7 linked regions of the Homo sapiens genome follow. The protein of the gene in region 1 interacts with the protein of each later gene in a pairwise test. Each region holds a gene or a part of one and is shown in the gene's direction. Other genes may lie near its edges. The genes, in order: TADA2A, ZNF564, TTC23, AATF, FBF1, PPP1R16B and TTC9C.

What was found.
Region 2: the proteins of TADA2A (region 1) and ZNF564 interact in binary tests that used the Homo sapiens proteins (3 or more experiments, as listed by UniProt).
Region 3: the proteins of TADA2A (region 1) and TTC23 interact in binary tests that used the Homo sapiens proteins (3 or more experiments, as listed by UniProt).
Region 4: the proteins of TADA2A (region 1) and AATF interact in binary tests that used the Homo sapiens proteins (3 or more experiments, as listed by UniProt).
Region 5: the proteins of TADA2A (region 1) and FBF1 interact in binary tests that used the Homo sapiens proteins (3 or more experiments, as listed by UniProt).
Region 6: the proteins of TADA2A (region 1) and PPP1R16B interact in binary tests that used the Homo sapiens proteins (3 or more experiments, as listed by UniProt).
Region 7: the proteins of TADA2A (region 1) and TTC9C interact in binary tests that used the Homo sapiens proteins (3 or more experiments, as listed by UniProt).

What each region holds. Positions count from the first base shown.
Region 1 is NC_000017.11:37,437,601-37,441,791, forward strand, and holds part of TADA2A (transcriptional adapter 2-alpha), read left to right. Parts: intron 1-137; coding exon 138-229; exon of another isoform or gene 230-358; intron 359-2,904; coding exon 2,905-3,062; intron 3,063-4,191. UniProt on the Homo sapiens protein: Component of the ATAC complex, a complex with histone acetyltransferase activity on histones H3 and H4. Required for the function of some acidic activation domains, which activate transcription from a distant site. Binds double-stranded DNA.
Region 2 is NC_000019.10:12,541,208-12,545,398, reverse strand, and holds part of ZNF564 (zinc finger protein 564), read left to right. Parts: intron 1-4,191.
Region 3 is NC_000015.10:99,155,020-99,159,210, reverse strand, and holds part of TTC23 (tetratricopeptide repeat protein 23), read left to right. Parts: intron 1-2,913; coding exon 2,914-3,063; intron 3,064-4,191. UniProt on the Homo sapiens protein: Participates positively in the ciliary Hedgehog (Hh) signaling.
Region 4 is NC_000017.11:36,986,483-36,990,673, forward strand, and holds part of AATF (protein AATF), read left to right. Parts: intron 1-134; coding exon 135-249; intron 250-2,036; coding exon 2,037-2,238; intron 2,239-2,764; coding exon 2,765-2,929; intron 2,930-4,191. UniProt on the Homo sapiens protein: Part of the small subunit (SSU) processome, first precursor of the small eukaryotic ribosomal subunit.
Region 5 is NC_000017.11:75,916,924-75,921,114, reverse strand, and holds part of FBF1 (fas-binding factor 1), read left to right. Parts: intron 1-685; coding exon 686-841; intron 842-1,007; coding exon 1,008-1,108; intron 1,109-1,240; coding exon 1,241-1,447; intron 1,448-2,845; coding exon 2,846-2,953; intron 2,954-3,044; coding exon 3,045-3,184; intron 3,185-3,264; coding exon 3,265-3,383; intron 3,384-4,191. UniProt on the Homo sapiens protein: Keratin-binding protein required for epithelial cell polarization. Involved in apical junction complex (AJC) assembly via its interaction with PARD3. Required for ciliogenesis.
Region 6 is NC_000020.11:38,913,188-38,917,378, forward strand, and holds part of PPP1R16B (protein phosphatase 1 regulatory inhibitor subunit 16B isoform 1 precursor), read left to right. Parts: intron 1-4,191. UniProt on the Homo sapiens protein: Regulator of protein phosphatase 1 (PP1) that acts as a positive regulator of pulmonary endothelial cell (EC) barrier function. Involved in the regulation of the PI3K/AKT signaling pathway, angiogenesis and endothelial cell proliferation.
Region 7 is NC_000011.10:62,731,078-62,735,268, forward strand, and holds part of TTC9C (tetratricopeptide repeat protein 9C), read left to right. Parts: intron 1-2,040; exon of another isoform or gene 2,041-2,122; intron 2,123-4,191.

The sequences.
Region 1 (4,191 bases):
GGTCTCGAACTCCTGACCTCAGGTGATCCGCCCGCCTCCGCCTTCCAAAGTGCTGGGAGTATAGGCGTGAGCCACCGTGCCTGGCCCCTAGATTCCATTTGTATCTCTGTTCTTAAGCAAAACTTTTTTCTCCTTAGACTTCAGATTTTCCTGTCCTTGATCCCAGCTGGACTGCTCAAGAAGAAATGGCCCTTTTAGAAGCTGTGATGGACTGTGGCTTTGGAAATTGGTAAGAGCTTGGTGTTAAGAGTTGTCCTGCCCTAGTGGACTCAGAGAAGAAGCTGTTGTTGAAGAGTAAAGGAAGGAACCTCAGGAAGAGAAAGTATGTGTTGCTTTCCTATCAACCCATGATTTAGAGGCAAGTTAGTCCCCTCTGTACATTATTTTTCCAGTGTCGAAATGTGTCACGAGGATATGGGATGTTTAGCGGTCCATGACTGAGCAGCTTTAAAAGGCCACTTTGGATGTATCAACAGTGGGAAGATTGATTATTATTCCTTTCTGAATAGTAGGGAAGTTTAGTTTCGTTAGTTATTACTCCCTTCTGATTTTATGAATTTTTGTTAGTTGTAGATGCCCTAGTCATTTAAGTGAATCAGACTTTAGCTAGATGGTCATACGTAAGATTCAAGTTTCACAGACTTCCTGATAGCATTCTCTGTTTTTAGCTTTCAAACACCTACCTGCCTTAGTCCAAAACCGGCGGAATTGAATAGCACTTATTGCTGTTGACCTAGGGGGCAGCACCACTTAATACTACCACTTTCGTTTTTATCTTTTGGGAACACTTTCATATGGATGCTTTTATTTTATGAACTAGATAGCAGAGGCATTATTGAATATATTTTGTTCACAAATTATCTGAAGCCTAGGGGGTTGAAATGATTTCTTGTGATTACATAGCTTATTACTGAAGGACTCTTAATTAGGTCCTCCCTGTCCTGACTTACTAGTGTATATAACCTTTCTTGGTGTTCATCAGAATAAACTCTGCTGCCTGCCTCCCTTATGTCCAGGGACCTGAAGAAGGAGACCTGAATTTAGTTCACATTTTGCTTGTATTCATTCATTCAGTATTTATTAAGCATCATAAAATACTGTGTACAATGAGAAATACCAAAGGAGGTAGAAAAGTAATCACTTGTGAGGAGTTTGCTAGTCATCTTTGGCCTAGTTTTTCATTTTTTGCTTACCATTCTCTCTAAAATAGTCTAAACCTCTCTGTCCTCCTTCCCTCTTAACAAAGAACATAAAAAAGACATAGCTTCTCTATCCGCTGTGGGTAAGGCACTAAGTTTGGCAGTGAGTGGGCTAGAGCTAAGAATTATGAGATGCATCCTGTCTTCAGAAAGCTTATAGTTTAGCAGGGGACTTAAAAATACAAGTGATTGAAGTACACAAAACAGCACAGTGATGCCTTAGGGGAGGTCAAGTGAAATGCTGTGAAAAAGAGACCTTGAGGAAAGGACTTCCACCTGTACCTCTCCATTACCTTGGCTCAAGTCAGGGATTTTTTTTTATTGAGACAGTCTCACTTTATCACCCAGGCTGAAATGCAGTGGTGTGATCACAGTCACTATAACCCCGAACTCCTGGGCTCAAGGGATCTTCCCTCCTCAGACTCCCAAGTAGTTGGAACAACAGGTGTGCGCCACCATACTCAGCTAATTTTTAAATTTTATTATTATTATTATTATTTGGAAACAGGATCTTGCTCTGTCGCCCAGGGTGGAGTACAGGGGCATGAGCTTGACTCATTTCAGCTTCAACCTTCCAGGCTCAAGTGATCCTCCCAGCTCAGGCTCCCGAGTAGCTGGGACTACCGGCGTGTGCAACCACCCCTGGCTAATCTTTGTATTTTTTGTTGAGATAGGATTTTACTGTGTTGCCCAGGCTGGTCTCGAACTCCTGAGTTCAAGCCATCCTCCCACCTTGGCCTCCCAAAGTGCTGGAATAACAGATGTGCCCCACCATGCCTGGCCAGATTCTTAAGCAAGTTTCTTAATTATTTTGGGCCTCATTTTTCCTTCTTTGAAATTGAGATAGTAACAATATCCATACCACAAATTTGATACTAGGTTTAACTTAAATTCTGTTGTGAATGTTTCTAGCTCAGTGTCTGGCATCTCATAGCAGCTCTAGTAAAGAAATGTTTATGTTAAGTGTTTGGTAAACCGTAAAATATTAGGCAAAATAAAACTATATTTCTGTATATTTTGAATGTTCTGAAGTCACTTCTTATTATTTACAGCAATTATTTCTGTAGGGCCTAGCTCACAGGAAAATTTACAAATTTTCCAGTCATCTTTATTTATTTATTTATTTATTTATTTATTTATTTATTATTTTTTTTTTTTTTTGAGATGGAGTTTCGCTCTTGTTGCCCAGACTGGAGTGCAATGGCGTGATCTCTGCTCACTGCAACCTTTGCCTCCTGGGTTCAAGCAATTCTCCTGCCTCAGCCTCCCAAGTAGCTGGGATTACAGGCATGCATGCACCACCACGCCTGGCTAATTTTGTATTTTTAGTAGAGACAGGGTTTCTCCATGTTGATCAGGCTGGTCTCTAACTCCCAACCTCAGGTGATCCACCTACCTCCCAAAGTGCTGGGATTACAGGTGTGAGCCACTGCGCCTGGCCTCAGTCATCTTTCTTTAAGTGGAAAAGAAAGGACTTTTTAGTCATTATTTCTGTGTTTTAGACTAGCAAGATATGGAACACCAGATTACACCAATCTAGGCTTATATTTATGTCATTTTTCTGCTGATATCTTTTTGATATCAATTTGGAAATATGAGAGTATATTATATGGATGTGACTTAAAATATGAAAAGAGCAAATGATGCTTTTAGTATTATGTGTAAATACAAGTACCACTTCTCTCTTTTTCCCACAATCCTCTAGGCAGGATGTAGCCAATCAAATGTGCACCAAGACCAAGGAGGAGTGTGAGAAGCACTATATGAAGCATTTCATCAATAACCCTCTGTTTGCATCTACCCTGCTGAACCTGAAACAAGCAGAGGAAGCAAAAACTGCTGACACAGCCATTCCATTTCACTGTAAGTGCCTCCCTATCTTGATAAGATATACTTAGCTCATCCTTGGGCCCTGTTTCAGTAGCAGATAAAGAGTGATTTGATGACTTGGACAGCTAATGATATCACGGAAGATAGGAGGAGTTAGTATGGCAGCTATTGAGAGTCAGGATCGACCCAGCATGGTGGCTTGTGCCTGTAATCCCAGCACCTTGGGAGGCTGAGGCGGGTAAATCACTTGAGGCCAGGAGTTCAAGACCAGCCTGGCCAACATGGCGAAACCCTGTCTCAACTAAAAGTATAAAGATTAGCTGGACGTGGTGGCAGACACCTGTAATCCCAGCTACTGGGGAGGCCAAGGCAGGAGAATCACTTGAACCGGGTAGGCGGAGATTGCAGTGAGCCAAGATCACATCACTGCACTCCAACCTGGGTGACAGAGTGAGACTTCATCTCTTAAAAAAAAAAAAAAAAAGAGTCAGGATTATAATGTGGCAAAGAAGGAACATACTCTAAGGGTCAGAGTTCTATACAGGACATCAAGGTGCTTGAAGCCAATGTGTAGTTCCACCTACCTTGAGTCCTTTGAACATATCAGTTAACTTAGTGCTTTCCTTTGTAAAATAAGATGTCAAAAAGGGAAAACCTTTTCTATGCTATTATGAGTGCAAGTTTTTTTTCAATCCCTTTGGAGAGCTTATGATTATACATATGAGTTGCTTAGAGAATACAGTATTTGACTCATTATTATTAATTGCCTTGGTGTCAAGCCCAAGAATCAGTTTGTTATTTTTGTTCGCTTGGTTGTGTCAGTGATGGCGAACTTTTTAATCTCATGTGCGTGTGGGACCAGTGGGTCTCTTAATAAAATATAACCAAAAACATGATGAATTATAAATGACCATCTTTCCTGAATGACTCTCAGGGTACAAGTAATGAGATATGAATGTTTTCACTTCCCTTTTCTCTTTCCTCATACTCTCTAGAAACAGTTTTATAGCTGACTAACTTAAAGGCTGGTAATACCTCCTTTTTTTTTTTTTTTGGAGACAGAGTCTCGCTGTGTCTCCCAGGCTGGAGTGCAGTGGCACAACCTCGGCTTACTGCAACCTCCACCTCCAGGGTTCAAACGATTCTCGTGCCTCAGCCTCCT
Region 2 (4,191 bases), on another chromosome or scaffold:
TAAACTGACTCCAGGTAAACATCTGGTCACTGGTGAGAATCGAGACCGTGAATCACATCATGAGGAGAGGAGAGTAGGGTGCGTGGAGCTCCCAGGATGTTTCCCTCACTCATTTCTTTTTTTTTTTTTTTTTTTTGAGACGGAATTTTGCTCTTGTTGCCCAGGCTGGAGTGCAATGGTGCGATCTTGGCTCACCACAACCTCCGCCTCCTGGGTTCAAGTGATTCTCCTACCTCAGCCTCCTGAGTAGCTGGGATTATAGGCATGCGCCACCACGCCCAGCTAATTTTTTGTATTTTTAGTAGAGACGGGGGGTTTCTCCGTGTTGGCCAGGCTGGTCTCAAACTCCTGACCTCAGGTGATCCACCCGCCTTGGCCTCCCAAAGTGCTGGGATTACAAGCATGAGCCACCACACCCGGCTCCCTCACTCATCTCTTAGGAGTGGGCCACATCTTCACATGAATGGTCCTCAGGCTTGTTTAACCTTCTGAATGTGGGTTTCCTTGTGACTGTGGGTGAAACAGGCTGCTAGGTAATAGATCCCAGAGAGAAAGGATAGTTCTCCTTGTAGGCCAACAGGAAGAGGGTGGCTGTTTCAGACCTGATATACACACCTAACCAGGGAGCAAGACAGAGGAATCTGGGCAGATGCCTTTATTGGAGACTCTGTGGGAGTTCTAGTTGGTGAGTTTAGAGCAACCAGATGGGAATTTCGTGGAGTCACATGGTGACTGAGAGGTGGTCCCTGCAGCCTCTCTGTGCATTCCTTGTGTAGGGTCAGTTGGATGATTTCCAGCAGTTTGTATCTAGCCGTCTCATGCGGAGGTGGTCACAGGGAGGCGGCTGTGTAAGGCAGATAACTGGATTGACCACATGGAGGAAATGGGAGGAGGCGTAGAACTGGAAACTGTATTAAGGGTGACTAAGCCCTGCTTCTGGTATGAGAAAGTTAAAGCCATATTCAAAGTGGCTTCTGAGGTAGCATACAATTTTAAGAATTCACTGCAATAGACAGCTCTACACTGAATTCACAACATTATGTGGAGATGATGGCAGAAGATGGGTTATCACTGCTGCTGGGGTTTAACTGTCCGTCGTTTCTGTCCCTGACTGACCATACCTGCTCTGTCATAGGTTCACATACCCTACATAGATGCCCTGGTTTCAGAATTTCCCATATTTCTTTGGTTTATCTTTCTGCTACTGCCATAGTGTCCTAATTATTTCATAACCCTGATGTATGGTTGAGAAAGTGCTGTACTGTCTTAGTCACCTGGGGATGCTGTAATACATTGCCATAGGCTGGGTGGCTTGAACAGCACACATGTAGTTTTCACAGTTCTGGAGGCTGGGAAGTCCAAGTTCAAGTGCTGGCAGATGTAGTGTCTGGTAAGGGCCTGCTTTGTGGTTTTCAGATCATCATCTCTCATTATATCCTCACAAGGCAGAGGAGAGAGGAAGCAAGCTGTCTCCTGTCATTTCTTCTAAAGGTGCTAATCCCATTTATGAGGGCACCACCCTCATGGTCTCTAACCCCGATTACCTCCCAAAGATGCCACCTCCTAATGCAACGACATTAGGAGTTAGAATTTCAGTATATGAATTTTGGGAGGGACACACAGATTCAGGCTGTAACATTTTCTAACAGTGTACTGTACGAAGTCTTTGCTGTTTTTAGATATTTGAGTCCTATTTCAGTTGTTTTTTTTTTTTTTTTTTTTTTTGAGACGAAGTCTCGCTTTGTTGCCCCGTCTGGAGTGCAGTGACGTGATCTTGGCTCACCACAACCTCCACCTCCCGGGTTCAAGTGATTCTCCTGCCTCAGCCTCCCGAGTAGCTGGGACTACAGGTGTGCCACCATGCCTGGCTAATTTTTTGTATTTTTAGTAGAGACAGGGTTTCACTATGTTGACCAGGCTGGTCTCGAGCTCCTGACCTCAGGATCCACCCACCTTGGCCTCCCAAAGTGCTGGGATTACAGGCATGAGCCACTGCACCCGGCTATTTCAGTTTTTAGAAGTGGTCCCTTCCCTTTCCCCTTCCCCTTCCCCTTCCCCTTCCCCTCCCCTCCCCTTCTCTCTTTTTTTTTTTTTTCTGAGACGAAGTTTCACTCAGTCACCTAGGCTGGAGTGCAGTGGTGTGATATCAGCTCACTGCAACCTCCACCTCCTGGGTTCAAGCCATTCTCCTGCCTCAGCCTCCTGAGTAGCTGGGATTACAGGTGCACCCCACCACGCCTGACTAATTTTTTTGTATTTTTACAAAGACAAGGTTTCACTGTTTTGGCCAGGCTGGTCTTGAACTCCTGACCTTGGGTGATCTGCCCGCCTTGGCCTCCCAAAATGCTGGGATTACAGGCGTGAGCCACCGCGCCCGGCCCCTTCTTTTCTTTTTTGTGGTGGAGTTTCTCTCTTATTGCCCAGGCCAGAGTGCAACGGCATGATCTTGGCTCACTGCAAACTCTGCCTCCGGGATTCAATTGATTCTCCTGCCTCAGCCTCCCAAGTAGCTGGGACTACAGGATGTGCCACCATGCCCTGCTAATTTTGTATTTTTAGTAGTGACAGAGTTTCACTATGTTGGTCAGGCTGGTGTAGAACTCCTGACCTCAGGTGATCCACCCACCTCGGCCTCCCAAAGTGCTGGGATTACAGGCATGAGCTATGGTGCCCGGCCCTTTTTTCTTTTCCTTCCTTTCTTTCCTTTTTTTCCTTTCCTTCCTTCCTTTCCTTTTTTCTTTTCTTTCTTCCTTTCCCTTTCTTTCCTTCCTTTCTTCCTTGAGATGGTCCCCCTATGTCACCAGGCATGATCTGCACTGGCGTGATCATAGCTCACTGCAGCCTACAACTCTTGGGTTCAAGCGATCCTCCTGCCTCAACCTCCTGAGTAGCTGGGACTACAGACACGTGCTATCATGCCCAGCTAATTTTTAATTTTGGTTGAGGTTTCATTATGTTGCCTAGGCTGATCTTGAACTCCTGGCTTCAAGTGATCCTCCTACCTTGGCCTCCCAGAATGCTGGGATTCCATGTGTGTGCCTGGCCTAGAAGTAGTGTTTCTTAAACCTTTTTTTTTTTTTTTTTTTTTTTGAGACAGAGTCTCACTCTGTTACCCAGGCTGGAGTGTAGTGCCGTGATCTTTACTCACTGCAACCTCTGCCTACCCGGTTCAAGCAATTCTTGTGCCTCAGCCTCCCGAGTAGCTGGGACTACAGGCGCCCACCACCATACCCGGCTAATTTTTGTATTTTTAGTAGAGTCGGGGTTTCACTGTGTTGGCCAGGCTGGTCTTGAACACCTTAGCCTCCCAAAGTGCTGGGATTACAGGCGTGAGCCACCATGCCCTGCCAAGAAATAGCATTTCTTTTTTTTTTTTTTTTTTTTGGACAGAGTCTCGCTCTGTCACCCAGGCTGGAGTGCAGTGGCACAATCTTGGCTCACTGCAACCTCTTCTCTCCCGGGTTCAAGCGATTCCTCGGCCTCAGCCTCCTGAGTATCTGGGATTACAGGTGCCTGCCACTACGCCCAGCTAATTTTTTGTATTTTTAGTAGAGACGGGGTTTCACCGTATTAGCCAGGACGGTCTTGATCTCCTGACCATGTGATCCGCCTGCCTCGGCCTCCCAAAGTGCTGGGATTACAGGCGTGAGCCACCATGCCTGGCAGAAATAGCATTTCTTAAGTTTAATAACATACCAAGCAAATCTGGTTGTGAATTTTATGGAATTAAATAAAGCACTGTATTTGGGACAGCTTAAGCATATATCATGGTAATATTCAGCCTCTTTTCTAAGGATCTATGCCATTTCTCCATGTAGTGCTTCCTAATTTGATTTTTTTTTTCTTTTTTTTTTGAGACAGAGTCTCCATCCCCAGGCTGGAGTCTAGTGGCGCGATTTTGGCTCACTGTAACTTCCGCCTCTTGGGTTCAAGCAATTCTCCTGCCTCAGCCTCCCAAGTAGTTGGGATTACAGGTGCGTTCTACCACGCCGAGCTAATTTTTTTGTATTTTTAGTGGAGATGGGCATTTGCCTTGTTGGCCAGGCTGGTCTCGAACTCCTGACCTCAGGTGATCCGCCCATCTCAGCCTCCCAAAGTGATGGGATTACAGGCGTGAGCCACCCTGCCTAGCTATTTTTGTTTTTTGAGGCAGGGTCTTAACCCCATCACCCAGGGTGGAGTGCAGTAGTG
Region 3 (4,191 bases), on another chromosome or scaffold:
CTTGCTGAGTCAGCCAATGCTCAGTGTCACTGATGCTATGCCTCACTGCCCTTGCCCAAGTCACCCAGATCAGTGTTGATCAAAAGATGCACCTCACTCTCCTAAGCTGCCCTCGAAGATTTTAGCAAACTGGCTCTTTTCATTCTAGGGCCACTGCCAGCCCATCCAATGCCCTTATCATAATAGAAAAAGCTGCCCCTTCCTCAGGTAGATACCGCCCATGTTGGAGAGGACCATAGGCTGGATTTCAGCCCTCCCCATGCTCCTGCCAGGCACCCTTGTGTGTGGCACCACCTGCCCAGCCAAACATGGCAGTCTCATGCTGTTCTCACCATTTGGTTGCAAACCTCTCACTGTGGGTTCTAGCAGGTGTTGGCCAACAAGGGCCGGGCCCAGGGACAGTCCCGGAGCCAAGAATGGGGCTGTGCTCAGGCCATCCCAGGTGTTCCCACAGCACATGGCCATGGGCACTGTGGAACATGATATTTGAGGGATGAAATGCCTTTTAAGGTAAAATGTAAGTGAAGGTCACTCTGCCACAGGTTAAGCTACTCCGTGAGGGTTTGTCTTCTAGTTGTGCCACTCTTTTGCTCAAGAATCTTCTGTGACTTCCTCAGCCTGGCCACTCACTGGCCCTCAACAGGCCATGTGTTCCTCCTGTGCTCCCAGTGGCCCATACCCTCTTCTCATCCCACCTAAGTCCTCTTTACTCTTCACTCCTCTCTCTTAAGCTTTTCCTAGCAGAGGTTGATACTATCTCAGTTTCCTAGAAACCCGTGCCATTTAACTTCCTTCACATCTCCCCGTTTCCGCAGTCAGGCTGTAGGCGGCATCCAAAGCTTTATCTGGGAAAGGGAGTCTCCCCGGGTCTTCTCCCCATCACTGGCTCCTCTAAGTCTGACAGTGATATTTTCCCACAGAAATATCACCAAACCCAGCACTCTCAGCAGTCCAAGTCCTTGCTCTCAGAACTTGGGAGATGTGATGGGCTTTACCCTCAGGCAAGTCTAGATTTAAATTCTAGTCCCTCATGTACCTCAGTGGGGCCTCACTGCTGAGTTACACAATCACTCTGCCTCTACAGAGATTCCTCTTTCACCTGAGAAATTTATTTCTGCCTCATCAGCACCTGTAATGTGGTTCCCCTACCCCGGCCCTATCCCCTAACTTGTATTATTGCCAACAAAAGGATTAAACGCCCTCCTTGTCCTTCTGTTTGTGGAGCACTTTTGGGACCCCTTTGGGGCTGTGTCATGAGGAAGCTCCCATGGTCCCTGCTGTATTTGCCAGTTAAATTCAGCATCCATGCTCTGCAGCTGATGTCGTGCCTTCATGTGGAAGATCGTGGAAGAATTTCTGGAGAAAGTATGGAGGATTGACATACTTTAACAGGGTTTCCCCCTGCATATTTTGGTGTCTGAAGAAGCTAATATCAGGAAATACTATGTCCTGACCAATTCATAATTTTTATTCCATGTTAGTATAAATAAATTGGATAAACCAAACAAAATGTCATGTCATGTTGGAATGTTTACTTTCAGTTTCCTAAACGATTTCCTATGAGAATAGCCAAGCCTGGAGTGTGTTCAGGATGTTCTATACATAGATAATTTGCCCAGGAATGCTATATTTTCACTTCTGTAAGAATAGCATTGTGGACAGAGGGAGAAAAGCATGGGACTAAAATGTATGAAAATTAGACTGGGCATTGTGGCTCGCGCCTGTAATCCCAGCACTTTGGGATGCCAAGGTGGGTGGATCACTTGAGGTCAGGAGTTCAAGACCAGTCTGGCCAACATGGTGAAACCCTGTCTCTACTAAAAATACAAAAATTAGCTGGGTATGGTGGTGGGCGCCTGCAATCCCAGCTACTTGGGAGGATGAGGCAGGAGAATCGCTTGAACCTGGGAGGCAGAGGTTGCAGAGAGCTGAGATCATGCCACTGCACTCCAGGCTGGTAGACAAAGAGAGACTCTGTCTAAAAAAAAAAAAAAAAAAACCTCCAGATTTCCACCTGCTGTTGTAAAATGGAAGATCTGCTGAGACGGTGAGACGGATTTAAAAAAAAAAAAAAAAAAAGGTATGAAGATCACTGGCTGGATTCAGATCCTAGCACCACCACAGCTGAGCCCTCTGACTCTGAGCAAGTTTCTTAACTGCCGTGCCTGTTTCCTCCTCTGCCTAATGAGGATTAAAATTTTACCCATCTAAAGAAGACAGCAAAAATTAAATGAGACCCACACAATTGTGTGTGTTCAGCACAATTAGTGACATGTGAGGACTGATCCATGTCAGCTTTTGTTCTTACTACTCAACTGAAATGGATTCCTGTAATGGCTGAGTGGGTTTATTTTGCCAGGTGTCCTCTCTCTTCATAGTTTACACCTTTCCTCACATTCGTGTTGTTTCCTGACTCTTGTTCAACCAGAGGTGATATGATTTGGCTGTGTCCCCACCCAAATCTCGTCTTGAATTATAGTTCCTATAATACCCATGTGTCATGGTAGGGACCCTGTGGGAGGTGATTGAACCATGGGTGCGGTTACCCCCATGCCGTTCTTGCGATAGTGACTGAATTCTCACAAGATCTGATGGTTTTATAAGGGGCTTTGCCCCCTTTGCTCAGCACTTATCTCTCCTGCTGCCCTATGAAAGAGGTGCCCTCTGCCATGATTGTAAGTTTTCTGAGGCCTCCCCACCCATGTGGAACTGTGAGTCAATTAAACTTCTTGGCTTTATAAATTACCCAGTCTCAGGTATCTCTTCATAGCAGCATGAGAATGGACTAATACAAGAGGAGAACAGGCTCAGCTCGTGAGACTACCACACCCATGTGAAAATGTTACAAGTTGCGTAATGATCCTAATCAGCCTTTGAGCTTGTTAACCAGATAGCTTTTTGTTCCTTTCACAGAGAGCAACCTCGATCCTGAGAGAGTCCCTGGAAGCCAAAGTGGAAGCATTTGGCGATTTCAGTCCCGAGGTGGCAGAGACATACCGGCTCCTGGGAGGAGCAGACCTGGCGCAGGGGAACCACAGTGGGGCCCGCAAGAAACTGAAGAAGGTAAAGCTGGAACCAGTACTAACACGAGACTAGGCTCTCCCTCCCCTCTCCAAGGTCAATTTCTCTCCCTTGTGGTGGTTCTTTTAAATGAAACTTTAGAAGTGGCTTGTTTAGATAGGATGACATCACTTTTGTGGTAGATCTAACCTGATACTTTTTGGGTAAAAGACATAGTAAGCCTCTTAGACATACATATTTTTTAAATGAATTATCAGTTTTTACTATGCAAATATTTTTAATTTTTTACGTAGTACAATTGATCAGTCCTTTATGTTTGCGGTGCTCTCTCTATACTGAGTTTATAGAGGAATTCTCTTACACTTTCTTCAATTGTCATTCTTCTTTAAATTTGGAGTTTATTTGTGTGGATGGCATGAGGAATGGATCTAATCTTACCTTTTTTCCAAATGGCCACCCAGTTGTCCAGCACCATTTAATTAGAGAGCCCATCTATGCTCCAGTGACTTCAGATAACACCTTCATCATATACTGATTTTCCTTATGGACTTAAGTCTATTTCTAGATTTCTCTTCTCTTCCACTAGTCTTTCTGTTTATTCATGTGTCAATATTTCAGTTTTAATTACAGAGATTTTATAGAATGATTTAATATGTGATAGGAGTAGACACCCCTTATGGCTTTTCTTTTACTAGAATATCAGGTGTTCTAGCTATTCTTCCGTGTTTATTTTTCTACATGAATTTTTGTATCAATTTGTCTAACTCCATAAAGAGCTTACTAGTATTTTTATTGCATTATTTATAAATAAATCTTGTGAGAATTGACAACTTTGTGATATTGAGTTTTTCTATCCAAGAACAAGGGATATCTTTCCATTTCTTCATTCCTACTTTTGTATCTTTCAGGCACATCCAAAAGCGTTCTTCATATAGGTTTTGTATATTTCTTATTAAGTTTAATTCTAACCATTTGATCTTCGTTATTACTATTATAAATGGAGATTTATCTACTGTTATATCTTTTGATTTTTTTAATATATGAACCCAGTTGGTTTCTCTGTGTAAATTTTATATCCTGCTAATTGCTTAATTCTTTCATTGCTTGAGTTAATTCAATCATTGAGTCTCCCAGGTTTTGGGGGTATTCTATTACATTATCTGCAAATAC
Region 4 (4,191 bases), 450 kb from region 1:
GTTCCTGTGTGTATCCTGTGCCTCCCCTTCACTCCCCACAGCCAGAACTGCTCAGGAGTCATGAGTTATAGGCATCACCTACTTTGGAGAATTGTAGATAATTAATTGTCCTTTCTCTGTCCTTTATTTCCCAGGTCACAAGGCACTTAAAGCATTGTTGAGGTCATTGGTAGGTCTTCAGGAAGAGTTGCTTTTCCAGTACCCAGACACTAGATATCTAGTAGATGGGACAAAGCCCAATGCGGGAAGGTAAGAGAACAGAATCATGGAGTTGCTTATTTTCTTTTCATTTGGATAGTTTCCCATCATTTATGAAAGAAAAGCTAAGTTCTCTTCAGGCAGATATTAATGTTAGTAAAATAGAGTCTCATATTTACCTGATGGTCAGGATGGCACATAAGTTGGTGATTAGATTTTAGATTTTTATATTTAGTTGTACCTGATGTGCTTTGCGGTCTTAGACAAAGGCTTGCCTTCTCTTTAGATCTATTGGAATTAGAAGATAAAAGCACTTTGTTTTTTAGAGATGGGGTCTTACACTGTCATCCAGGCTGGAGTGCAGTGATGTGATCGCAGCTCACTGCAGCCTCAAACTCCTGGGCTTAAGCGGTCCTCCTGCTTCAGCCTCCCAAATAGCTGGGACTGCAGGCACTTGCCACCATGCCTGGCTATTTTTTTTTTTTTTTTTTGTAGAGACAGGGTCTTGCTGTGTTTCCCTATCTGGTCTCAAACTCCTGGGCTCGAGCCATCCTTCCACCTCAGCCTCCCAAAGTGCTGGAATTATAAGCATGGGCCACTTCACCTGGCCAAAAGCACATTTTTAAAATATTAATGCTTAATTAATGTTTATGAAACATTCTGTGCCCATACCATATATTGGAATCACTGGTCACAGCCATCTCCTTTGAATAAAAGCTGTTATTATGAAAGATGGAAAAATTTCAGAAAACAGCAAAATAATTATTTTTTCCCCCTGAAATTATTACATTTGATGAAGATTTTTCCCCCTTTTGTTTACACCTGCTGTATATACCTGCTTGCTTTTTTTCCCTCGAGCTTATCTTTTGTTTCACTTTTTATCTACTGAACTAGTTGGGAGGACAAAAAGGAAACTCACATTTATTGAGCACCTATTATATGTTGAGGTCAGTAATCCAGTGAGTGCAACTGGCAGATAGTTGGAGGTTGTATTACATTGCCATGGCAGTTGCATAGATGGCACTGCAGGTTAGTTAGTGCTAATTGTTGCCTACCGCTTTGAGTTTTCTTCACATTCAGCTTCTCTTGTATTTGGTTCAACTAATATTATTCATCTTTCCTTAACAGTTGGTTACAGAGAGACACATTTCCCTTATTGATTTGAGGATTAAGGTCGTAGAAATATGGTTATGTGTTTAATTTTTAAATACTGTCCTATAATACTGCAGGCCTGGTTCATACACATTTCTAATAATTCTTTTAAAACCTCATTTATTTTTATGGTTTACTTACCTTTTAAAAAATATTTTGAAACTAGTTCTTTTTATATTTGTTTTAAAAGTTACATGAGGCTGGGTGTGGTGGCTCATGCCCTGTAATCCCAGCACTTTGGGAGGCCGAGGCAGGTGGATCACTGGAGGCCAGGAGTTTGAAACCAGCTTGGCCAACATAGTGAAACACCATCTTTACTAAAAATATGAAAAAAATTAGTCGGGCATGGTTGCACACACCTGTAATCCCAGCTACCCATGAGGCTGAGGCATGAGAATTGCTTGAACCCAGAAGTGGAGGTTGCAGTGAGCCAAGATCGCGCCACTGCACTCCAGCCTGGGCAACAGAGCAAGACTGTCTCAAAAAAAAAAGTTACACGAGTTTTTGATTGATCTCATGAATATTCTTCTCAAAGAGCAAAAGCCATCCTTATATCTTTGGTGTTATTTTGAATGGAGACAGAACAGGTAAGGCCTAAATATTCTCAGTCCTTTATGTGAGCCTAGTTTTTAAAATCTAAGTAATGTTTGTTTACACTGGACATAATATTCTTACTGCTTTTCTAGTGAGGAGATTTCTAGTGAAGATGATGAGCTGGTAGAAGAGAAGAAGCAGCAACGAAGAAGGGTCCCTGCAAAGAGGAAGCTGGAGATGGAGGACTATCCCAGCTTCATGGCAAAGCGCTTTGCCGACTTTACAGTCTACAGGAACCGCACACTTCAGAAATGGCACGATAAGACCAAACTGGCTTCTGGAAAACTGGGGAAGGCAAGTGTGTGTATGCGCGCATGTATGTGTAAGATAGGTTGTGGCAACTTGAAGAAGTTTTAAGAAATTGGAACTACAGCTCATTTATATGGATGTTGTCACGATGTAATGGTAATCATTCATTTCTATAGCAAAATCTACTGAACTTCTGGCACTGGGGTTTATACGATTCAGACTTGGGATTTTAACTTTATTAGAAAGAATGTTTTATTCTTAAAATTGAGGCCTTGTAAGTGTTCAAGTGCTGAAAATCCAAATACTTTAAAGGAGTGGATTTCAAAGCAATAATTATTAAAGTATCAGAAGCTAATCTCCGTGTGTAGAAAAATGATATGACCTGCTTAAGACTAACTTTTTTTTTTTAAGAACAATTATAGCCACTCACAAACTCAGTCCTTTACAGAAAGTCCCTCCTGAAAAGATGATTTTCTATCTCTCTGCTGACACAGAAAGATAGAGAAACCAATGTAGCTTGCCTTCAGCACTGATTTTCTGCATTATCTGACACTGCTTAATGTTGTTGCAGGGTTTTGGTGCCTTTGAACGCTCAATCTTGACTCAGATCGACCATATTCTGATGGACAAAGAGAGATTACTTCGAAGGACACAGACCAAGCGCTCTGTCTATCGAGTTCTTGGCAAACCTGAGCCAGCAGCTCAGCCTGTCCCAGAGAGTTTGCCAGGGGAACCGGTAAGAACTCTGTAATGCAGAGTGATTATGGGGAATAGTTTCTATGAGGCTTATTAGCTGAAAAACTTGTAGCTATTACCTGTTTATATAAGAGGTTAGTGAGAGAAAGGAAAGCAACACTACTTTACTGGATTACTGAGAGAAACTTGAGTGTATGTGAGAGGAGAGAGTTTTTAAAAATGGGGCTTCTATTAACTCCTGTGTGTCATCTTCTCTTAATTTTGAGTTTGATGCAGGAGTCTGGTAGTAGAAGCATTCATAATCCAATTTTCAAAATTCAGTTTTAAAGCTACTTCTGTAGAAATGTCAGTATTGAAACAAGTGTGTACTTTAGGCTCAACGTTTGCCATTTAGGTACTTTAGAAAGGGTGCAGAAGTGGAATAGTCAAATTCTTTTGTTTAAAGGAAACATTTAAAATTTTTTAATTATGGAAGAAATATATACTTAATCCTTTTTTAGTTTATAGCAACTTAAAATGAAAAGCAAAATTCTCTACTCTGAAAATTTCACTCCTGAGGTGAAATTTTTTTATTTTTTTTGTCAATTGCCTGTTAACGTAACTCCTGAGGTGAAATTTTCAGTATTTAATAGTTGTAACAAGTTTACAGTTAATAATTAATAGTTGTAACAAGTTTTTGGGTCTTTTCTATTTGTGTAACTATATATGTGTGCAAATAACAAATATATATGTATAAATATGGTTGCCTTTTTTACTAAATGAGAGACATTTATGTAGTATAAATATGTAAAATATTACAACTGTATTTAAAGTCTTGCAACTTTTAAAATCTAATAAGTCCTAGATACTCTTTCCATTTCATTACCTAGAGAGCTACCTCATTTTTCCTAATGACCTCAAAGTATTCCATTGTATGGATATGCACTATCATTTATGCAAACAATGGATATTATGTTGTCTCCAGTTTCAGAAACACTGCTACAGGAAAGATTCCTGTACATGTATTATGTGTTCGTATAAATATATGGGTAGATTTCTTGAAGTGGAAGTGTTAAAGAAAATACACCAAATTCTGATAGATGTTGCCAAATTGCCTCCAAAAAGGCTGCATTAATTTCAGTCGTAGAGGTGAAAAATGGTATCTTCTAATTCTAATTTACACATATTTAATTTGAATGAGGGTAAACATATTTTCATATGATTATTTATGGGTTTTTTTGGTCAACTGCCTGTTAATGTTTTTGCCTGTTTTCATATTGGACTGTTTTGTTTTTTAATTTTAAGAACTTTTTATATCTTAAG
Region 5 (4,191 bases), about 38 Mb from region 1:
GCCAGCTCCCCGGGCACCCCCCACTAGAACTTGCCTGAATTTCTAGCCTCGCTGCTCCTGGGCAGAGCTGGGTGTTAATTTGCCTACATCAGTGGGGAGTTTAAGGAGGCAGCCAGGCCGGGGAGCTGGGATGCTGCAGTCAGAAAGCAGGGCCGCAGGGTCCTGTTCTGTCAAGAAAGCCTCCTCCACCCTTGCCATCCTCCCACCACACCTCTGCCTCTGTTTCCCATGTGTGGCAGTCACCTGTGACACCTGGGCCTGGGAGGTGTGCCCCCCCCCCCCCCAGGAGTGTGTCCCTGGGAGATGGTGGGTAGGGGACAGCTCGTGGGAACCAGATTAGTGTCAACATGTGGGCTTCAGGCCTGACAGGAAAAGCCAGCATCAGCTTTTGTCATAGCGAAGACTCTGCTGGGGTTCAGCCATTTGTCTGGGAAGCCGGAGACCATGCTGGGGAGGAAGCTGTTCCGGAGGGTGGAGGGAGACATGCTCCTGACCAGATCTGCAAGGGGAGGTACACTGGGGACTGCTTAGCCGCAGTGACTGTTACTTTCCAAGGCCTTGGCCCCATCTGCAGCCACAGATCAGATGCAGGGAGGTCCAGTGAGCAGTGGGCCAGGAGGTAGCTGATCTCAGCTGGGCCCCTGTCCCCTCCCTAACTAGAAACACCTCTCTTCCTCTCCTCCAGCCCCTGCTCCCAGAGTCCCTGGCCCGGAGCCTGCTGCCGAGCACAGAATACCAGAAGCAGCTCCTGGCAGCACAGGTGCAACTTCAGTGCAGCCCCGCTGAGCTCCAGGCCGAGCTGCTGCATAGCCAGGCCCGGCTGGCAGAGCTGGAGGCCCAGGTGAGGGGCAGCGGGGCCGTTGGTGCTGGTGGCAGGGTTGCGACAGGAGGGGACACTGAGAGTGGCTGGAAGCTTCCCCAGGAGGGAGGAAGGGCTGTTGGCACAGGGCAGCGTGGAGTACAGCCACCTCCCCTCCCTGGTTGCTGGCCCTCCTGCTGTCTCCCAGGTGCGGAAGCTGGAGCTAGAACGGGCCCAGCATGAGCTGCTGCTGGGGAGTCTGCAGCAGCAGCACCAGGCAGACCTGGAGCTCATCGAGAGTGCACACAGGTACCCTGGCGCTGGCCCCAGCTCTGCCTTGGATCTCACACTGACCCCAAAGGCCACCCAGTGTGCCTGGAGAGGCCTTTAGGCGGCAGCCCTCTGCCTTCCTTGCGCCATGGCTGGGTGTTCTGTTGGCAGAAGCCGCATCAAGGTGCTAGAAACATCGTACCAGCAACGGGAGGAGCGGCTCCGGAGAGAGAACGAAGAGCTGTCAGCTCGGTATCTGTCGCAGTGCCAGGAGGCCGAACAGGCCCGTGCTGAGCTTACGGCCCAGCACCAGCGGCGCTTGGCGGCCATAGCGCAGGAGAAGGACCAGGAAATGGAGCGGCTCCGGGAGCTGCAGCGGTGAGGCCCAGGGACAGGCAGCTGGGGAGCAGGCTTGCAAGGAGTAGCCGGAAGAGAGCCATCCCCACGAGACCCTTCGCTGTGGCTCAGCAGCCTTTGGACAGGGGTTGGGTCCTTCCCTCCCAGTCCAGTGAGTGAGGACTGAGGGCTGAGCACACTGACCCATCACACCCATGGGTGGGGGTGCCACCTGCTCTTACAGAGGCAGGAGGGGGTACCCACAGGCTGTTCAGGCATGGCATGGCAGCAGCAAGCCGCCTAGGGTCTAACTAAGCACAGGGTCATCCACTCGCCTGCTCATGCAGTAGAGGCTAGAAACAAGATCCACCTGGGAAAGGCTTGCGCTGTTGTGCCTGCCATGTTTATAGGGTTGCCTTTCTAGAAGAGAAGGAAACTAAGAAAAGTTACCTAAGGGAGTCAGAGGTCGATGAAGGCAGAGGCAGCCTTTTAAGACTGCTCAGGGCCGGGTGCAGTGGCTCACACCTGTAATCCCAGCACTTTGGGAGGCCGAGGTGGGAGGATCACTTGAGGCCAGGAGTTTGAGACCAGTCTGGGCAACACAGTGAGACCTCATCTCTAAAAACAATTTTTAAATAAGCTGGCATGACAGCTACTCCTGTAGTTCCAGCTACTTGGGAAACTGAGGCAGGAGGATACCTTCAGCCCAAGAGATCAGGGCTGCAATGAGCTATGATGCCACTGCACTCCAGCCTGGACCACAGAACAAAACCCTGTCTCTAAAAACATTTAAAAAACAAAACACTTGGGAGGCCAAGGCAGGAGGATTGCTTGAGGCTAGGAGTTCAAGACCAGCCTGGGCAACATAGTGAGACCTCATCTCTAGGAAAAAAAAAAAAAAAAAGAAAGACTGCTTGGGGCCGGGCGTGGTGGCTCACACCTGTAATCCCAGTGCTTTGGGAGGCCAAGGTGGGTAGATTGCCTGAGCTCAGAAGTTCGAGACCAGCCTGGGCAACACGGTGGAAACCCCATCTCTACTAAAATATAAAAAATTAGGCGTGGTGAGCGCCTATAGTCCCAGCCACTCGGGAGGCTGAGGCAGGAGAATTGCTTGAACCCAGGAGGCAGAGGTTGCAGTGAGCCGAGATCATGCCACTGAACTCCAGCCTGGGCGACAGAGTGAGAGACTCTGGGTGACAGAGCAAAACTCCATCTCCAAAAAAAGAAAAGCTGAATAATGGGAGGAATGCCCATCTTAGTGCGTGTAGCATTGAGGCACCATGACAGATAAGACAGAGGAGCTGGGGAAACTGAGGCAGTGCCCGGCGGAGGAGAGGCCTGGGAGCAAGGGCTGCACGGAAACACACCCTTCCACAAGGAGTTACCGCATCAGGGTGATCCAGCTCAGAGTGACCGCCTTCCCCTCCCGCCTCCCCTCAGGGCGTCCATCCTAGACATGCGCAGAGACCACGAGGAGCAGCTGCAGCGGCTAAAGCTGCTGAAGGACCGAGAGGTCGATGCGGCCACCAGTGCCACCTCCCACACGCGGTATGTGCGCTGCCCCAACCATGCCCGCCTGACGTTGGGGGCCGGAAGGTCCCCGAGACCGTCAGGAGGGGGTGACCCAGTCTTCTTCCAGGTCCCTGAATAGCATCATCCACCAGATGGAGAAGTTCTCCAGCAGCCTGCACGAGTTGTCCTCCCGCGTGGAGGCCTCGCACCTCACCACCTCCCAGGAGCGGGAGCTGGGGATCCGGCAGCGTGACGAGCAGCTGCGGGGTACGCCCTCCCCTCTCAGCCACCCCGGCTCCTGGTGGGAAGGGGGAGCAGCTGCTGAGCACCCTGTGGGTTGCCCCCAGCACTGCAGGAGCGGCTGGGCCAGCAGCAGCGGGACATGGAGGAGGAGCGGAGCCGGCAACAGGAGGTCATCGGGAAGATGGAGGCACGGCTGAATGAGCAGAGCCGGCTGCTGGAGCAGGTGAGGCCCGTCCTCCTGGCCCTCCTGCCCCTCCTGCCACGGGGCCTCTTCTCCAGGGCACCCGCAAGTGTAGCGGCACTCCCGTGACCTCACTTCCTCAGGAGGTCAAGGCCCCACCTGCCGCTTCCTGCCTCTACATCTCCCTGCCCTGGCCAGGCTCTCAGCACTGCCCACCTGAGCATGCAGGGGCCGCCTGGCCAGGCCCCCCACCACGCCCTGTCCGCTCCTCAGCACCGCAAGCCCCTCGGCCACCTTGGCTGCCCTCCGCAGTCTAGCCCCCGCAACCATCAGCTGCACTTCCCACTTCCTGACACTCGAATCTGTCACATTAGCTGAGGCCTGACATTGGGACAGATGCTCTTGCCCATTAAATGTCATCCTAGCCTCTTCAGCTCTCACAGAGACATTTGAATTCCCTAGATACCTTTCATATATAAGCACATGCTTTATTTAAATAATGATGACCTTAGCCAGGCACAGTGGCCTGTGCCTATAATCCCAGCTACTTGGGGGGCTGAGGCAGCAGGATCACTTAAGGCCCAGAATTTGAGACCAGCCTAGCGAGACCATAAATAAATTTTTTTATGCCAGGCAAGTTGGCTCATGCCTGTAATTCCAGCACTTCAGGAGTCCAAGGCTGGAGGATCACTTGAGGTCAGGAGTTCGAGACCAGCCTGGCCAACATGGTGAAACTAAAAATAAAGAAATAAGAAACTAGCCAGGCGTGGTGGCGCACGCCTGTAATCCCAGCTACTAGAGAGGCTGAGGTGGGAGAATCGCTTGAATCTAGGACACAGAGGCTGCAGTG
Region 6 (4,191 bases), on another chromosome or scaffold:
TAAGTAGCAGTACAGACAAACTAAATCAGAATCTCAGGAGTTGGGACCTCAGCATTGTATATGTTTGTCATTGGTGTTTTTTTTTAATTTTTTTTAGATGGAATCTTGCTCTGTTGCCAGGCTGGAGTGCAGTGGCTCAATCTTGGCTCACTGCAACCTCCGCCTCCCAGGTTCAAGTGATTTTCCTGCCTTAGCCTCCTGAGTAGCTGGAACTACAGGCGCACGCCACCATGCCCAGCTAATTTTTGTATTTTTAGTAGAGACGGGGTTTCACCATGCTGGCCAGGATGGTCTCAATCCCTTGACCTTGTGATCCACCCGCCTCGACCTCCCAAAGTGCTGGGATTACGGGCGTGAGCCACCATGCCTGGCCATGTCGTTGTTTTTTAAAGCTAAAGAGAGACTGTTTTTGAAGTGATTGCAGCAGTAAGTAGAATGCATCGACCACAGAATTGGCAAGATCTTGGAGGTCAAGGAGAAAGGAGTTCGTTTCCTAGGGAGGAAGACAGAGGCTGCAAGGACTGAGGGTTGGGGGTGGGATGAGCAGGTGGTGTAATTGGACAGTTGACCAGGAATGTGTGTCTGGTGGTCAGCCCATTTCCAGAACGGTCTTCAGGAGAGTTTTTCTGCATTGCAGTGCTTGTTTACCCTCAGGGTGAGTCAAAGTCCAGGATCCTGTGGGGAGGGGAGCAGCTTAACTAAAATTTGGTTAAATCATTTACCGCTGGGCGCAGTGGCTCACGCCTGTAATCCCAGCACTTTGAGAGGCCCAGGCAGGCGGATCATCTGAGGTCAGGAGTTTGAGACCAGCCTGGCCAACATGGCGAAACCCTGTCTCTACTAAAAATAGCCAGGCGTGGTGGCAGGTGCCTGTAATGCCAGCTACTTGGGAGGCTGAGGCAGGAGAATCACTTGAACCTGGGAGGCAGAGGTTGGAGTGAGCCAAGATTGCACCACTGCACTCCAGCCTGGGCAACAGAGTGAGACTCTATCTCAAAAAAAAAAAAAAATCATTTAGCAAGCATTTAATTTCGGTTGATAAATTGACAGTTTAATCATTTCAGAGGAAAAGAATGAGAATTTGGGGGACTGTGTTTGGGTTGTCCTAGGAAAAGGAGGGGTCGTCTGAGCGTTCTGGAAATCCTATGGGGAAGGGTGATTCTGTGCAGTCAGCCATTCCCCAGAACACAAAATGTGGGGGTTTTGTTTAACCTTCCTGTTGTCCAGTATCTCAGTTCAACATTGCCAAGATGATGGTGCCTACCACAAAGGGTGTTCTAGGGTCAATTGTGTTCTTATTTGTATAGAACTCAGCCCATAATTTGTACCTCATTAAGCATTAGGCAGATAAGTACATTTAGAAGTTCCCTGCATCATGAGAAAACCTCTTTCGTCTAACCCACATCCTTCAGGCTGGAGTTAATTCCTCTTCCTTCAATGCTCTGATTTCTGACACTGGAGATGGATATAGGTGGGTTTTGTTTTCTTTTGTTGAGACAGGGTCTCATTCTGACAGGGTCACTCAGGTTAGACTGCAATGGTACAAACATGGCTCACTGCAGCCTCACCCTCCTGGGCTCAAGTGATCCTCCTGCCCAGCCTCCCATGTAGCTGAGCCACAGGCACGCACCACCATGCCCAGCTAATTTTTAAATATTTGGGTAGTGATGAGGTCTCACTATGTTGCCCAGGCTGGTCTCCAACTCTTAGGCTGAAGCCATCCTCCCACCTCAGCCTACCAAAGTGCTGGGATTACAGGCATGAGCCACTGCACCCAGCAGGGATTTTTTTCTTTTTAAACTAATAGATTTTTTTTTTCCGAGCAGTTTTAGAACTCTAGAAAAATGAGTGGAAAGTACAGATATTTCCCATATACACCCCCCTCCACCCTGGTTTCCCCTGTTATTAACAACTAGCATTAGTGTGGTACATATGTTATCACTGATGAGCCAATATTGATACATTATTATGAACTAAAGCCCATAGTTTACATCGGGTTTGCTCTTTGTGTCGTAACTCCTGTGGGTTTTGACAAATGCATAATGTCATGTGTCCGTCATGATAGTGTCACACAGAATGCTCTCGCCACTTGGTTTAGGTGGTTATATTAGACAGTTGAGATTGTGAACAACTGGTGAAAGAGACCAGGGCTGTCCCACTAAACAGCCCTGGTATTCTACTTACGCTTCCTCCCCAAACTCTAGCAATCACTGATCTTCTACTGTTTTCATAAGTCTTGCTTTTCCAAAATGTTATATACGTGGAATTATATAATATGTGATGCTTTCAGATTGGTGTTCTATATGGTTTTTTTTTGAGACGGAGTCTCACTTTATTGCCCAGGCTGGAGTGCAGTTGTGCAATCTTGGCTCACTGCAACCTCTGCCTCCTGGTTCAAACAATTATCCTGCCTCAGCCTCCTGAGTAGCTAGGATTAGAGGCCTGCGTCACTGCGCCTGTCTAATTTTTGTGTTTTTCTTTTAGTAGACACAAGGTTTCACCATGTTGGCCAGGCCGGTCTCGAACTCCTGACCTCAAGTGATCCATCCACCATAGCCTCCCAAAGTGCTGGGATTATAAGCGTGAGCCACCACGCTCGGCCTGTACATGTTTTTTTTTAACTGTCTAGATGATGCCAATGTGCATCCAAGATGGGATCAGTGTCTCAGATCTTTGCCACTCTAAGCATCAGCAGGAAATTCTTAGAAGTGCCAAATTGCAGGCCCCAACCCAGACCTATTGAATCAGAATATGGATTTTAACAATATCCCTAGGCAACTCACATACACATCAAAGTTTGAGAAGCACTGACTAGGACCACCAAGAAACGGTCTCTCCATGACATGGCATCAGTCTGCCTGCATAGTTCAGAAGGAGCCATTAAAAAAAAAAAAAAGGTTGGACTCGGTGGCTCATGCCTGTAATCCCAGTGCTTTGGGAGGCTGAGGTGGGAGAATCATTTGAGACCAGGAGTTCAAGACCAGCCTGTGCAACATAGTGAGGCCCTGACTCTAAAAGGAGAAAGCGAAGAAATACACACTCATAAATGGAAACTTACTATGGAAAGTGTTCTTTGCCTTATCACATATTACCATATATATATATAACATATATATGTTATATATGTTATATATGTATGTTATATATAAATACATATATATGTTATATGTACATATATGTTATATATGTACGTTTTATATATATTTATATATGTATGTTATATATAAATATATGTTAGAAAACTAGATTATAAACTAGATTATATATATATATCTTGGACATCTTTCCATGCCAGCTTGTGGAGAATTCCTTCATTCTTTTTGCCAGCTACAGAGCATGCCAATAGAAGTACTGGCCACAGTGTCCTGCTTGCCCAATGATGACTTTCAGGCTTTGCACTAATGAGAGAGAAAATCTGTGAAATGGGCTTGCTGGTGCAAAGTATACAATCTTTTCTAAAAATTTTTATCATTATTATTGTTTTTATTTTTTACTGAAGAGCTGGGGAGAGAAGAAAGGAAAAAAAGAAAAAAATTTCAGTGAAGGATGATGCAAAACTGTCCATCAAAGAGACTGTAGCAATTTACATTCTCACTTATTTCCCCATACCCCTGCCAACACTGAGTAATAACACACTTTAAACGTATTTGTCAGTGTGATATCCAAAAGTGATATTTTGTTGTTTTAATTTTTATAGTATTAACGATTAGTGGGGATGAATATTATTCCAATGCCATGTATATCTATATATTTTGCTGTGGGCTACATATTAGTATCCCCTGCCTACTATTTTTATTGGGTAGATAGGCTTTTAAAAATTGACTTTTGGCTGGGTGCGGTGGCTCATGCCTGCAATCTCAGCACTTTGGGAAGCTGAGGAGTGTGGATCACTTGAGGCCAGGAGTTCAAGATCAGCCTGGCCAGCATGGTGAAACCCCATCTCTACAAAAATACAAAAATTTGCTGGGTGTGGTGGTACGTGCCTGTAATCCCAGCTACTCGGGAGGCTGAGGCAGGAGAATTGCTTGAACCCGGGAGGCAGAGGTTGCGGTGAGCAGAGATTGCGCCACTGCACTCCAGCCTGAGAGACAGAGCAAGACTCCGTCTCAAAAAAAAAAAAAAAAGGACTTTTAAGAGCTCTTTATACTTTTAGAAAATTAGTCTCTTTTCTGTAATATATGTTGAAAATAT
Region 7 (4,191 bases), on another chromosome or scaffold:
GGGGTTTTGCCATGTTGGCCAGGCTGGTCTCGAGCTCCTGACCTCAGGTGAGCCACCCACCTCGGCCTCCCAAAGTGCTGGGATTATGGGTGTGAGCCACCATGCCCTTCCCAAACTGGCCCTTTTATACACTTAATGTCCAAAGTACATTTCCACCTTCACACTTTTGTAGGCTGTCTTTCCAGCTAGAATGCCCTGTCCCTTGAATGACACTTATCCAGATTTGGACTCAAAAGTTGCTTCCTTAGAGAAGCCTTCTGTAGCTGGTGCAGTGGCTCACAACTGTAATCCCAACACCTTGGTAGGCCGAGGAGTTCAAGACCAGCCTGGGAAATGTGGCGCAACCCGGTCTCTACAAAAAATACAAAAATTAGCCAGGCATGGTTGTGCTTGCCGGTAGTCCCAGCTATTCTGGAAACTGAGGTGGGCCAATGTCTTGAGCATGGGAGGCCGGGGCTGCAGTGAGCCAAGATTGGGCCACTGCCCTCCAGCCTGGGTGACAGAGCAAGTAAGACTCTGTCCCCCGATTCCTCCCACCAAAAAGCCTTCCAGAAGCAAACAGCACTCTGACTTCATTCATTCTCTGTCCCGACATAGTTTTATTTTTCTTAAAGCACTTTTTTTTTTTTTGAGACAGAGTCTTGCTCTGTCGCCCAGGCTGGAGTGCAGTGGCGTGATCTCACCGCAAGCTCTGCCTCCCAGGTTCATGCCGTTCTGCCCCAACCTCCCGAATAGCTGGGACTACAGGCGCCCACCACCACGCCCAGCTAATTTTTTTTTTGTATTTTTAGTAGAGACGGGGTCTCACCTTGTTAGCCAGGATGGTCTCCATCTCCTGACCTAGTGATCCTCCCGCCTTGGCCTCCCAAAGTGCTGGGATTACAGGTGTGAGCCACCGCGCCTGGTCAGCACTTTTTTTTTTTTTTTTTTTTTTTTTGAGACCAAGTCTCACTCTGTCGCCCAGGCTGGCGTCAGTGGCGCAATTCTGGCTCACTGCAAGCTCTGCCTCCTGGGTTCACACCATTCCCCTGCCTCAGTCTCCCGAGTAGCTGGGACTACAGGCGCCCGCCACCACGCCTGGCTAATTTTTTGTATTTTTAGTAGAGACGGGGTTTTACCGTGTTAGCCAGGATGGTCTCGATCTCCTGACCTCATGATCTGCCTGCCTCAGCCTCCCAAAGTGCTGGCATTACAGGCGTGAGCCACTGCGTCCAGCCTCTTAAAGCACTTTTAAAAATTAATTTACTTGGGCCGGGCATGGTGGCTCATGTCTGTAATCCCAGCACTTTGGGAGGCCGAGGTGGGCGGATCACCTGAGGTCAGGAGTTCAAGACCAGCCTGACCAACATGGAGAAACCCATCTGCACTAAAAATACAAAAAAATTAGCCAGGCGTGGTGGTGCATGCCTGTAATCGCATCTACTAGGGAGGCTGAGGCAGGAGAATTGCTTGAACCTGGGAGGCGGAGGTTGTGGTGAACCAAGATCGCGCCATTGCACACTCCAGCCTGGGCAACAAGAGCAAAACTCCGTCTCAAAAAAAAAAAAAATTAATTTACTTGGGCCAGGTGCGGTGGCTCACGCCTGTAATCCCAGCCCTTTGGGAGCCCATGACAGGCAGATCACGAGGTCAGGAGATGGAGACCATCCTGGCTGATATGGTGAAACTCCATCTCTATTAAAAATATTTTAAAAATTAGCTGGGTGTGGTGGCAGGTGCCTGTAGTCCCAGCTACTTGGGAAGCTGAGGCAAGAGAATCGCTTGAACCTGGGATGTGGAGGTTGCAGTCAGCCAAGATCGTACCAGTGCACTCCAGCCTGGGCAACAGAGGGAGACTCTGTCTAAAAACAAACAAACAAAAAATTCATTTACTTGTTTCTTCTGTATTCCTCCACTTTTTTTTTTTTTTTTTGACCACTTGGTGGGGATGTTGTAGAAGGGATACAGACATCAGCACAGGCCCTTTAATGTGCTCATCACTGCTGATTCTTGATCTTTCTCAGCACCATGATTTAATAATACTATGTTTAATTCCCACAGTTGTGAAATAGGGAGTGTTTCCCTTCTTAATCATAAAAAGGCAGAACATTGACCTGAATTGCCTGAATTGACTCCTCTGCAGGTTTGTATTTCAAGGTCCCATTAAGTCATCCAAGAGAATAGTGAAGTTATATGCTGTATTGTTACTGAGAATGATGATTTTGGAGTTAGACAACACTTCATTCAAATTTCATATTCCACCTAGAACCTGTAAGATCTTAGACAAGTTATTTGTCTGAGTCTTGATTTCTTCATCCACTAAATGAAGATAGTAACACCTATTTAATAGTGTAGATGCGAAGATTAAACAAGACAGTGTATATCAAGCACATAGCACAGCGCTTGCCATTTCCTGACAATTAATGGCAACCATTATTAACAAAGCTGCAGTACAAGAACTGTGGTGAAATGGGGGATTCAGGACATAGAGCCTCAGGTAGAAGAGATACAATGAAGGTTAGTTTGTTTTTTAAAAAATTGTAATTTATCTAATTTTTTTTTTTTAAGATGGAGTCTTGCTCCATAACCCAGGCTGGAGTGCAGTGGTACAATCTCGGCTCACTGCATATCTAATTTTATATAAAAAATTAATGGGGCCGGGCACAGTGACTCACGCCTGTAATCCCAGCACTTTGGGAGGCAGAGGCAGGTGGATCACAAGGTCAGGAGTTCGAGACCAGCTTGACCAACATGGTGAAACCCCGTCTGTACTAAAAATACAAAAATTAGCCAGGCATGGTGGTGAGCGCCTATAATCCCAGTTACTCAGGAGGCTGAGGCAGAAGAATCACTTGAACCTGGGAGGCAGAGGTTGCGATGAGCCAAGATCACGCTACTGCACTCCAGCCTGCACGACAGAGCGAGACCTCCATCTCAAAAAATAATAATAATAATGAGGGGGCTGGGCAGGGTGGTTCACGTCTATAATCCCAGTACATTGGGAGGCTGAGGCCAGCGAATCACCTGAGGTCAGGAGTTCAAGACAAGCCTGGCCAACATGGCGAAAACCCATCTCTACAAAAATACAAAAATTAGCCGGGCATGGTGATGTGTGCCTGTAATCCCAGCTACTCGGGAAGCTGAGGCAGGAGAATCACTTGAACCCAGGAGGCGGAGGTTGCCGTGAGCTGAGATCGCGCCATTGCACTCCAGCCTGGGCGACAGAGCGAGACTCCATCTCAAAAAAAAAAATAGGGTCTCACCTGGGCATAGTGGCTCATGCCTATAATCCCAGTACTTTGGGAGGCCAAGGTGGACAGATCACTTGAGGTCAGGAGTTTGAGAACAGCCTGGCCAACATGGTGAAACCCCATCTCTACTGAAAACACAAAAATTAGCTGGACATGGGTAATCCCAGCTACTCGGGAGGCTGAGGCAGAAGAATTGGTTGAACCTGGAGGTTGCAGTGAGCCAAGATCATGCCACTGCACTCCAGCCTAGCTGATGAGTGAGACTCTGTCTTAAAAAAATAATAAAAAAAGAATACATTTGTTATTCGGAATACACTTCTTATAACACTGCAGTGAATACTCTGCCAAAAAAAAGGGACAGGGGAGGGTCTCACTATGTTGCCCAGGCTGGTCTTGAACTCCTGGGCTCAAGCAAATCTCCTACCTCAGCCTCCCAAAGTGCTAGGATTACAGCATGAGCCACCATGCTCAGCCGAGTTTTAAATAAATTTTAAAGTATGTTCTTACCAGCTTTATAGCCAAGCCTAACTGGCTACTAAATATGTAGCAGAAAATCAGTAAATATTGAAGTAGATTACAAGATATATGAATTTTTTGTTTTGTTTTGAGACAAAGTTTCACTCTTGTTCCCCAGGCTAGAGTGCAATGGCACGATCTCGGCTCACCGAAACCTCCGTCTCCCAGGTCCAAGCGATTCTCTTGCCTCACCCTCCCGAGTAGCTGGGATTACAGGCATGCGCCACCACACCTGGCTAATTTTTATTTTCAGTAGAGACGGGGTTTCTCCATGTTGTCAGGCTGATCTCGAACTCCCGACCTCAGGTGATCCACCCGTCTCGGCCTCCCAAAGTGCTGGGATTACAGGCATGAGCCACTGCACCTGGCCGATATGTGAAGCTTTTATTCACTGCTGCATCCCCAGTGTGTAGAAGAGTGTCTGGCATATGGGAGACACTTTAGC